Regions from separate parts of the Homo sapiens genome. Here region 2 is linked to region 1. The links come from fine-mapping of genetic effects on gene expression. A gene starts in region 1. The other region holds a variant in brackets. All regions are shown on one strand. Distances are from middle to middle.

What was found. PIP is the estimated chance that this variant, and not a neighbour inherited with it, causes the effect. A credible set is the group of variants that fine-mapping cannot tell apart.
Region 2: its variant is the best candidate, but not a certain one, in a credible set for the expression of IL12RB2 in whole blood (INTERVAL, PIP 0.54).

Annotation. Positions count from the first base shown.
Region 1 is chr1:67,305,649-67,309,898 of GRCh38, reverse strand. It overlaps IL12RB2 (interleukin 12 receptor subunit beta 2), which reads right to left and starts at 2,026. Exons shown (of 17, transcript NM_001374259.2): 1 at 1,932-2,026. RefSeq lists a silencer at 1,974-2,163 and enhancers at 2,624-2,673, 2,704-2,803.
Region 2 is chr1:67,274,466-67,278,715 of GRCh38, reverse strand. It overlaps the pseudogene DNAJB6P4. Among named protein-coding and RNA genes, the nearest start is that of IL12RB2, 31 kb to the left of the region's middle. The variant A/G (reference allele first, on the strand shown) is at 2,278.

The DNA of each region.
Region 1 (4,250 bases):
CCCGCCATTCTGCACAAATTTATTTGTAGGAGTTGACAGCAGTGCTGTGAGCGTAATTACAAAGATGACAAATAATTTGGTAGAGAACAAAGCAGGTGCAGCAATACAAAAATAAGTCCACAACTGAGAAATGATGCCCAATACCTACTGTACTTGGCGGATTCTTCTACCTTAAAAATTACATGTGTGCTTTCGAATTTTTTTTCACACTAAAACTCATTCTAATACAGAAAAGATTCCGTTTGTCAAAGTTTGGGAATTTATCAGCCTATGTAATGAACATGACATTCAAGAGGCATGACATATGGAAAAGAGCATATTGCAAACTTTTCTGGAGGCTGTTGTGCCTAACAGATAGTGTAATGTATTGAGGATTTCACATTAAAATAGGGAAGGAAAGTGTTAGCTCTTAGCCACTAAGGTCCTTTTAGTTATGTGTTGGACAGAGAAATAGGGCACTGTACCATTCCTATTAATGGAAAATGAGAATCCAACGTTTGTTTGTTCAAGTGGAGGTGGTTATAAGGTTCTGAGCCAGAGAGGTGGAAACAGAAGGAACACAGTTTTGAGCCAGAAACCTGTAACTCTCTAACTGTGTGAAACATGTAAGTTTCCACATCTGTAAAATGGGAATACTAATAACAATTTCACCATGTTTTTAAGGAATTAGATAATATATATCCAAAAACCAAATACATAGTAGGTGCTCAACAAAGATGTTCATCTACACAGAGCACACACATAGCAGATTATAACAATTATCTAGAGTTTTAAAAATGGGGAAAAAAGGACTAATTTAGCTTTATTCTTTATATATATATGTGTATGTGTGTGTGTGTATATATATATATATGTATATGTATGTATGTATTTATTTTTAAGACAGAGTCTCGCTCTGTTGCCCAGGTTGGAGTGCAGTGGCCCCATCTTGGCTCACTGTAACCTCTGTCTCCCGGGTTCAAGCAATTCTCCTGCCTCAGTCTCCCGAGTAGCTGGGATTACAGGTGTGCGTCATCATGCCCAGCTAATTTTCGTATTTTTAATAGAGACAGGGTTTCACCATGTTGGCCAGGCTGGTCTTGAACTCCTGACCTCAAGTGATCTGCCCACCTTGGCCTCCCAAAATGCTGGGATTACAGGCGTGAGCCACCGTGCCGGGACCCTGTTCTTAGACAAGGTCTATTTGTATGCTTTTAGGTTACTATTTGTAAGACCTGGATCTAATGGTACAGATACATAATCCCGTACAATGCTGACACTGATATTTAGTGTGTCCTAGGGAGATGAGGAGGGCCTCATAGTTCACAAAGGAAGGGGCATTTCACAGAAGAGAAAACTGAGGCTGGCCAATTTGCTTGCACCAGAGCATCTTGCTAGTAACTGGCCAGGCAGGGACTCGGGGTCAGTCCAGAGGCCACAGGAAAGACTGCTGAGACAAGGTTAGTTCACCCTCATCCGGGACTACGGAAGGCCCCCCCCAATATCTTACTCACATTTGATACATTTTCAAGCAACGGGAGCCACGTCTGTGGGCCTGAACCAAGGCTGGACCCTCAGGGGTGCCCTCTGCCCTTTTCCAGTCGCCGTCCCCTCCCTTCCGTTTGAGCCCACCACTCTGTGCCCCGGCCCAGAGAGTACCTTGGAGGCTCAGTCCGCGCGCTCCCTCCCCTCCATCCAGCCAAACCACCACCCAGTACCTCCAAGTGAACATCTGTGCCCAGGGCGTTAGGACTGTGATGAAGAGAAGCCATTTCGGATCGTATTGGAAGACTTTAAAAATATATATATACATATATATATATAAAGAGAGAAGCCGTCGCCGAAGCCCCCTCGGGAGACGCGAGACACGGAATCCCGGGCACGCAGACACCCCGCTGGTCCGGGATCCTGGGGCTCTCTCTGTCCCCGACCCCGAGTCACTGGTCACTCACCACGTGTCGCCTGCCAGCGGGCGCGGTCCCGGGCCTGCGGGGACCGGGTGGCCCCGGTGCTCTGGGCCGCACGTGTCGCGCTCTCCGCGCTCTCTGCCGGCGCTCGGGCGTTCCCGGTGCCAGCGCCCGCCCTCCCGCCTCCGCCTCCCGCCTCTGCGCCACCAACTCCGGGGTGGGCGCGGGGAGCTGGCGGCGAGTGAGGATCGGGCCGGGGCGGGGGTCGGGGCTGGGCGGTGGCCGCAGGGCGGAGAGGACTCGCTTCTCAGTTCAGCTCTGGAAGCGCAGCCGGGCGGGCGCCCGTGGTTTCCACCCCGCGGGTCGAAGCGGGCTCGGGTGGGATTCTGCCACCTGTGGGCTCTGCTGTGTCGCCTTGAGCAAGATAATTCTCTCTCCACCGTCAGTTTCCCCTCATATAAAATGCGGATAATAAAGCCTGTCTCATAAGACGGAGCAAGGGTTGACCGAGGTGAGGTGCGTTTATGCACCAAGATATGATAGGCGCGATAAAATCGTGTGCTCAGCGTTCACAGCCATAGAGACGTGGCACTTTGTTGACAGCCATCAGGGAACTTTCCTCGCAGATGTCCTTTCTCTGTGCTCTGCACCGCCCAGCTCTTACCACACCTGAGCGCCGAGGCCTCCCAAGTGGGCTGTGCACAAGACCGCCCACTGGAGTGCGGGCAGAACATACTGGAACTTCCATTTGTATTTGCTGTCTAAAAAATGAGAAAAAAGTTAAACTTGAACAGATGGCGTGTCACCACTCCCGTATAGGTCCCGTGTTATAAGTGGTGTTCTCAGGCAAGAGGGAAAACTGCCCAGAGTACAGAGGGGTCGGCAGCTCTGCATAATATTCATGACATAATATTTATGACAATATTACTTAGAAAAAAACTGTATTTAAACCTGTAAAGACAGACTCTCACTCTGTTACCCAGGCTGGTCTCAAACTTCTGGCCTCAAGCAATCCTCCCGCCTTGGCTTCCCAAAGTGCAGGGAATACAGGCCTGAGCCTCTGCACCCGTCAGCTTAGATTTCTTTAAATCTAAGACTTCCTTAATTATAAGATATACCATTATTTATGCGCTAGTAAGAAATAAAAAGAACTGCCAGGTAAACAATAACAATGCTTTCTCAACATTTAGAATCTTTTAAACTAAAATTTTATTTAGTTTAGAGATTTTATTTAGATATCTCTAAATAAAATTTAGATTTTAAACATATGTATATTATCTATCGAATTTTTTTTTAAGTCCCCCCCCCTCCCCCACCCCGTTGTCTCTGGAGTTTTCTTCTAGTCCACTGAGCCCAGTACAGGTTTGCTGAGCCCGCAGAAGTGGACAACTGCATACCACGCTTCTGGGCATTACCTTAAAACCGCTCTCAATGTTTGAGATGTTAAATATGAAAAATGTACATCTTGGAATCAACAATGTACAGTAGATTGTCTTTATGGGATTGTGACATACTGTAGTTTACATGCTTTAGTAATTTATCTACATGAATAATTTTACTAAAATCTTTTAAATCGTAGAATCTAGAATCTTAATATTACTTTGTAATGAGATGATACATAATTGTAGAAATCATTTGTAACAAAGATTTTAAAAGTTGTCTTAAAGTGAGTTATTTTCTTTATTTTTACAAAAAAACCCCAAATATCCTAAATTTGCTGATCTTTTCTGTATTGATATATGGCTCTCAGTACATGTTATCTAATAGATCTTTTTGAAGAACAAAAAACCCCAGAGGTTTATTTGTTGTTTCTTCAAGGTAATTTTCACACCAAGTGATACGTTGTTATGAAGAGACGATTTGAAAACAAATATTTCGAAGTGTTCCCATTATTGTGTGTTTTTCTTACTGAAGATTTTATGATTGTCATCACAGAAAATGCTTTTAAAAACTCGGAAACAATTTGCTATTTTGTTTCAATCTTTTAATTGAGCAGTTCAGTGGATTTTAAATCCATTTGTTAAAAAATATAAAAATGCAGCAGCTTCTCATTACTTTAAAAACTGATTGATATCAAGAATAAGATTATGATAGCCAAATGTTATAACAATCTTGCATAATTCATGGATTTTTCAACACTTTTTAGTGAGAAGGAAGGCTTTTAGTTTTGTTAATAAATCAATAATTTCAAAAATGCATTTTACTCTATCTCATTTAAAAATTTAATTTATATATTTGTGTGTGCATATGTGTGTGTGTGTATATACACACATATAAATATACATATGTTTTTCTGTTTTTTTTTTTTTGAAACAGCGTCTCACTCTGTTGCCCCGGCTAGAGTACAGTGGCACAATTTCAGCT
Region 2 (4,250 bases), 31 kb after region 1:
TCTTCTTCAACTTCTACTCTTTCTTGACCATTCTTGATAATTCTCTTTATCGTGATTTTTCTGCCATTAACCTTTTTAGTAGAAGTGTTATCGATTTGAAGTTGCCCATCCCACTACCAACATATGATGTGGAAGAAAATGAAGTGAGGCCCCCGTGACCGAGTGACCCAAATGAAGTATTAATAAATCCTATATCAAAATAAGAAAATCCACTTCTAAAAGATGGAAATCCACTGAATGTGGAGAAAAACTACCCCGACCCTTGGTTTCTGCTTCCACGGGGACCCCTTTGATTCTGAAACAAGTCCTCAAAAGAGTTCTTCAAAGAAGTCAAATGAAAATGGGTCCCTTCCACCAAAAAATTCCCTGAAGACATCATCTGGGTTACAGAATGTGAAGCCAAACTCAAAAGGACTGTCAAAATGACTTCCACCTCCTCCTCCACCATTTAATCCTTCTTTGCCATATTTGTCATAGATGTCCCGTTTTTTAGCATCTGACAACACCTCACACACCTCAGCTACTTGTTTGAATTTTCTCTCTGCTTTTTATTCTCAGGATTTTCATCTGGGTGCCACTTCAGTGCCAGTTTCTGGTGTGCCTTTTTAATATCCTCGGGTGAGGCCTCTCTCCACACTCCTAGAATTTCATAGTAATCCACCATGATTTTGTTTGTTTGTTTGAGACAGAGTCTCGTTCTGTCACCCAGGCTGGAGTGCAGTAGCACCATCTTGGCTCGCTGCAACCTCGCCTCTGGGGTTCAAGACATTCTCCTGTCTCAGCCTCCTGAGTAGCTGGGATTACAGACTTGTGTCACTATGCCCAGCTAATTTTTATATTTTTGGTAGAGACGGGGTTTCAGCACGTTGGCCAGGCTGGTCTTGAACTCCTGACCTCAGGTGTTCCACTTGGCTCGACCTCCCAAAATGCTGGGATTATAGGCATGAGCCGCTGTGCCCAGCCTAACCCATCATGCTTTAAGAGATTGCTGGAACAGGATGGAGGCGACTGACGGCAGGCGGGAGGCAGGGGCAGTGGCCGGGATCTCCTCCTGGCTCTGGCACTGCTGCGCTGGTGGTGGTGACTACTTGTGCTTTCCTCTCAAGCCTAGTTTTTTTTTTTTTTAATTTTTTTTTTATTTTTTATTTTTTAAATTTTTTAAATTTTACTTTAAGTTCTGGCATACATGTGTAGAACGTGCAAGTTTGTTACATAGGTATACATGTGCCATGGTGGTTTGCAGCACCTATCAACCTATGCTCTCCCTCCCCTTGCCCCTGACCCCCTGACAGGCCTCGGTGTGTGGTGTTCCCATTCCTGTGTCCATGTGTTCTCATTGTTCAACTCCCACTTATGAGTGAGAACACGCAGTGTTTGGTTTTCTGTTCCTGCATTAGCTTGCTGAGAATGATGGCTTCCAGCTTCATCCATGTCCCTGCAAAGGACATTAGCTCATTCTTTTTAATGGCTGCATGGTATTGCATGGTGTATATGTGCCACATTTTCTTTATCCGGTCTATTATTGATGGGTATTTGTGTTGGTTCCAAGTCTTTGCTATTGTAAATAGGGTTGCAATAAACATACATGTGCATGTGTCTTTATAGTAGAATGATTTATAATCCTTTAGGTATATACCCAGTAATCGGATTGCTGGGTCAAATGGTATTTCTGGTTCTAGATCCTTGAGGAATTGCTACACTGTCTTCCACAATTGTTGAACTAGTTTACACTCCCACCAACAGTGTAAAAGCATTCCTATTTCTCCACTGCCTCACCAGCATCTCTTGTTTCCTGACTTTTTAATGATCACCATTCTAACTGGCATGAGATGGTATCTCATTGTGGTTTTGATTTGCATTTCTCTAATGACCAGTGATGATAAGCTTCTTTTCATATGTTTGTTGGCTGCATAAATGTCTTCTTTTGAGAAGTGTCTGTTGATATCCTTCACCCACTTTTTGATGGGGTTGTTTTTTTCTTGTAAATTTGTTGAAGTTCCTTGTAGATTCTGGATATTAGATCTTTGTCAGACGGTTAGCTTGCAAAAATTTTCTCCCATTCTGTAGGTTGCCTGTTCACTCTGATGATAGTGTCTTTTGCTATGCAGAAGCTCTTTAGTTTGATTAGATTCCATTTGTCAATGTGGGCTTTTGTCGCCATTGCTTTTGGTGTTTTCGTCATGAAGTCTTTGCACAGGCCTATGTCCTGAATGATATTGCCTAGGTTTTCTTCTAGGGTTTTTATGCTTTTGAGTTTTACATTTAAGTCTTTAATCC[A/G]TCTTGAGTTAATTTTTGTATAAGGTGTAAGGAAGGGATCCAGTTTCAGTTTTCTGCATATGGCTAGCCAGTCTTCCCAGCATCATTTATTAAACAGGGAGTCCTTTCCCCATTGCTCCTTTCCCCATTGCTTTTTTTGTCAGGTTTGTCAAAGATCAGATGATTGTAGATGTGTGGTGTTATTTCTGAGGTCTCTGTTCTGTTCCGTTGGTCTATGTATCTGTTTTGGTACCAGTACCATGCTGTTTTGGTTACTGTAGCCTTGTAGTATAGTTTGAAGTCAGGTAGCGTGATGGCTCCAGCTTTGTTCTTTTTGCTTATGATTGTCTTGGCTATTCAGGCTCTTTTTTGGTTCCATATGAAATTTAAAGTAGTTTTTTCCAATTCTGTGAAGAAAGTCACTGGTAGCTTGATGGGAATAGCATTGAATCTATAAATTACTTTGGGCAGTATGGCCATTTTCACGATATTGATTCTTCCTATCAATGAGCATGGAATGTTTTTCCATTTGTTTGTGTCCTCTCTGATTTCCCTGAGCAGTGGTTTGTAGTTCTTGAGGAGGTCCTTCATGTCCCTTGTAAATCGTATTCCCACGTATTTTATTGTCTTTGTAGCAATTGTGAATGGGAGTTCACTCATGATTTGGCTCTCTGCTTGTCTATCATTGGTGTATAGGAATGCTTGTGATTTTTGCACATTGATTTTGTATCCTCAGAGTTTGCTGAAGTTGCTTATCAGTGTAAAGAATTTTTGGGCTGAGATGATGGGGTTTTCTAAATATACAATCATGTCGTCTGCAATCAGAGACAAGTTGACTTCCTTTCTTCCTATTTGAATACCCTTTATTTCTTTCTCTTGCCTGATTGCCCTGGCCAGAACTTCCAATACTATGTTTAATAGGAGTGGAGAGAGAGGGCATCCTTGTCTTGTGCCGGTTTAAAGGGAATGATTCCAGCTTTTGCCCACTCATTATGATATTGGCTATGGGTTTGTCATAAATAGCTCTTATCATCTTCTCAAGCCTAGTTTTTAAACAATTTATTACTGCTGAATCTCAGCATGTTTCACAGATATGTCTTTCATAATTCCTCTATTACACACACCCGCTGACCTTAATATACTCTTGAGTACAATTGCTATATTCTTGGTATTGTACACGTTATTTCTTACTACCAAGAAGAAGCCTCTAGTCTTTCATGACAATTTAAAGACACAAGCTAAATACCAGTCCCCATCCCTTGAGGAATTCATAGTACAGCACAGACACATGGGGTGCGAGCGAGGTGAATACATTCAAAACCAGCTCCACCACTTATGACCTAAGTGGTGCTGGGCAAGAAAAAGCATCTCTCTGACTCAGTTTCCTCAGTGTAAAATGGTGATAATAATATCTACCTCACAGCTTGTTTGGAAGATTAAGTTAAATAATGTGTGGGAAGAGCCCAATATGAATTCATTGCAGATACATTTTCTTTGTGCACTGAGATTTAGTTTCTGTCAAGTTTGTGTGTTCGTGGTTATGACACCCCTAAAGGCTATTCACAGCAGGAGATGTGGGAGCTGACACTTAAGTCATTTCTTCCCCAGTTTATGACAAGGTTACCTGGTTTCCACTCAAACACAGATAAAGGTGCTTTCTCTTTTACATGCTACACCACATCAAACTTAGTATCGTGCAAAAGAGTTTTGCTTACACAGTCATAGAAAAGGAAATTTGCATCAGTTTGCTTGAACATTTTGGTTAGCCATACTTTACTCACATTCTGAAACTCAGTCATGTAATTCAGAGGGGTTTTTCTCTTCTTAGATGATTTGCAGTATATTTATCCAGGAATAATTGCTGAGATGCAAAGATGACAATTATAAGCATTTATACAAGTAAAAGTATTAGAATTTTAGTTCTATTTTAGACTTCCAAATAGGATGCACAATGAGTTGATAAGGCAATCCGGTGGTTCTTCACAGGTTTCTAA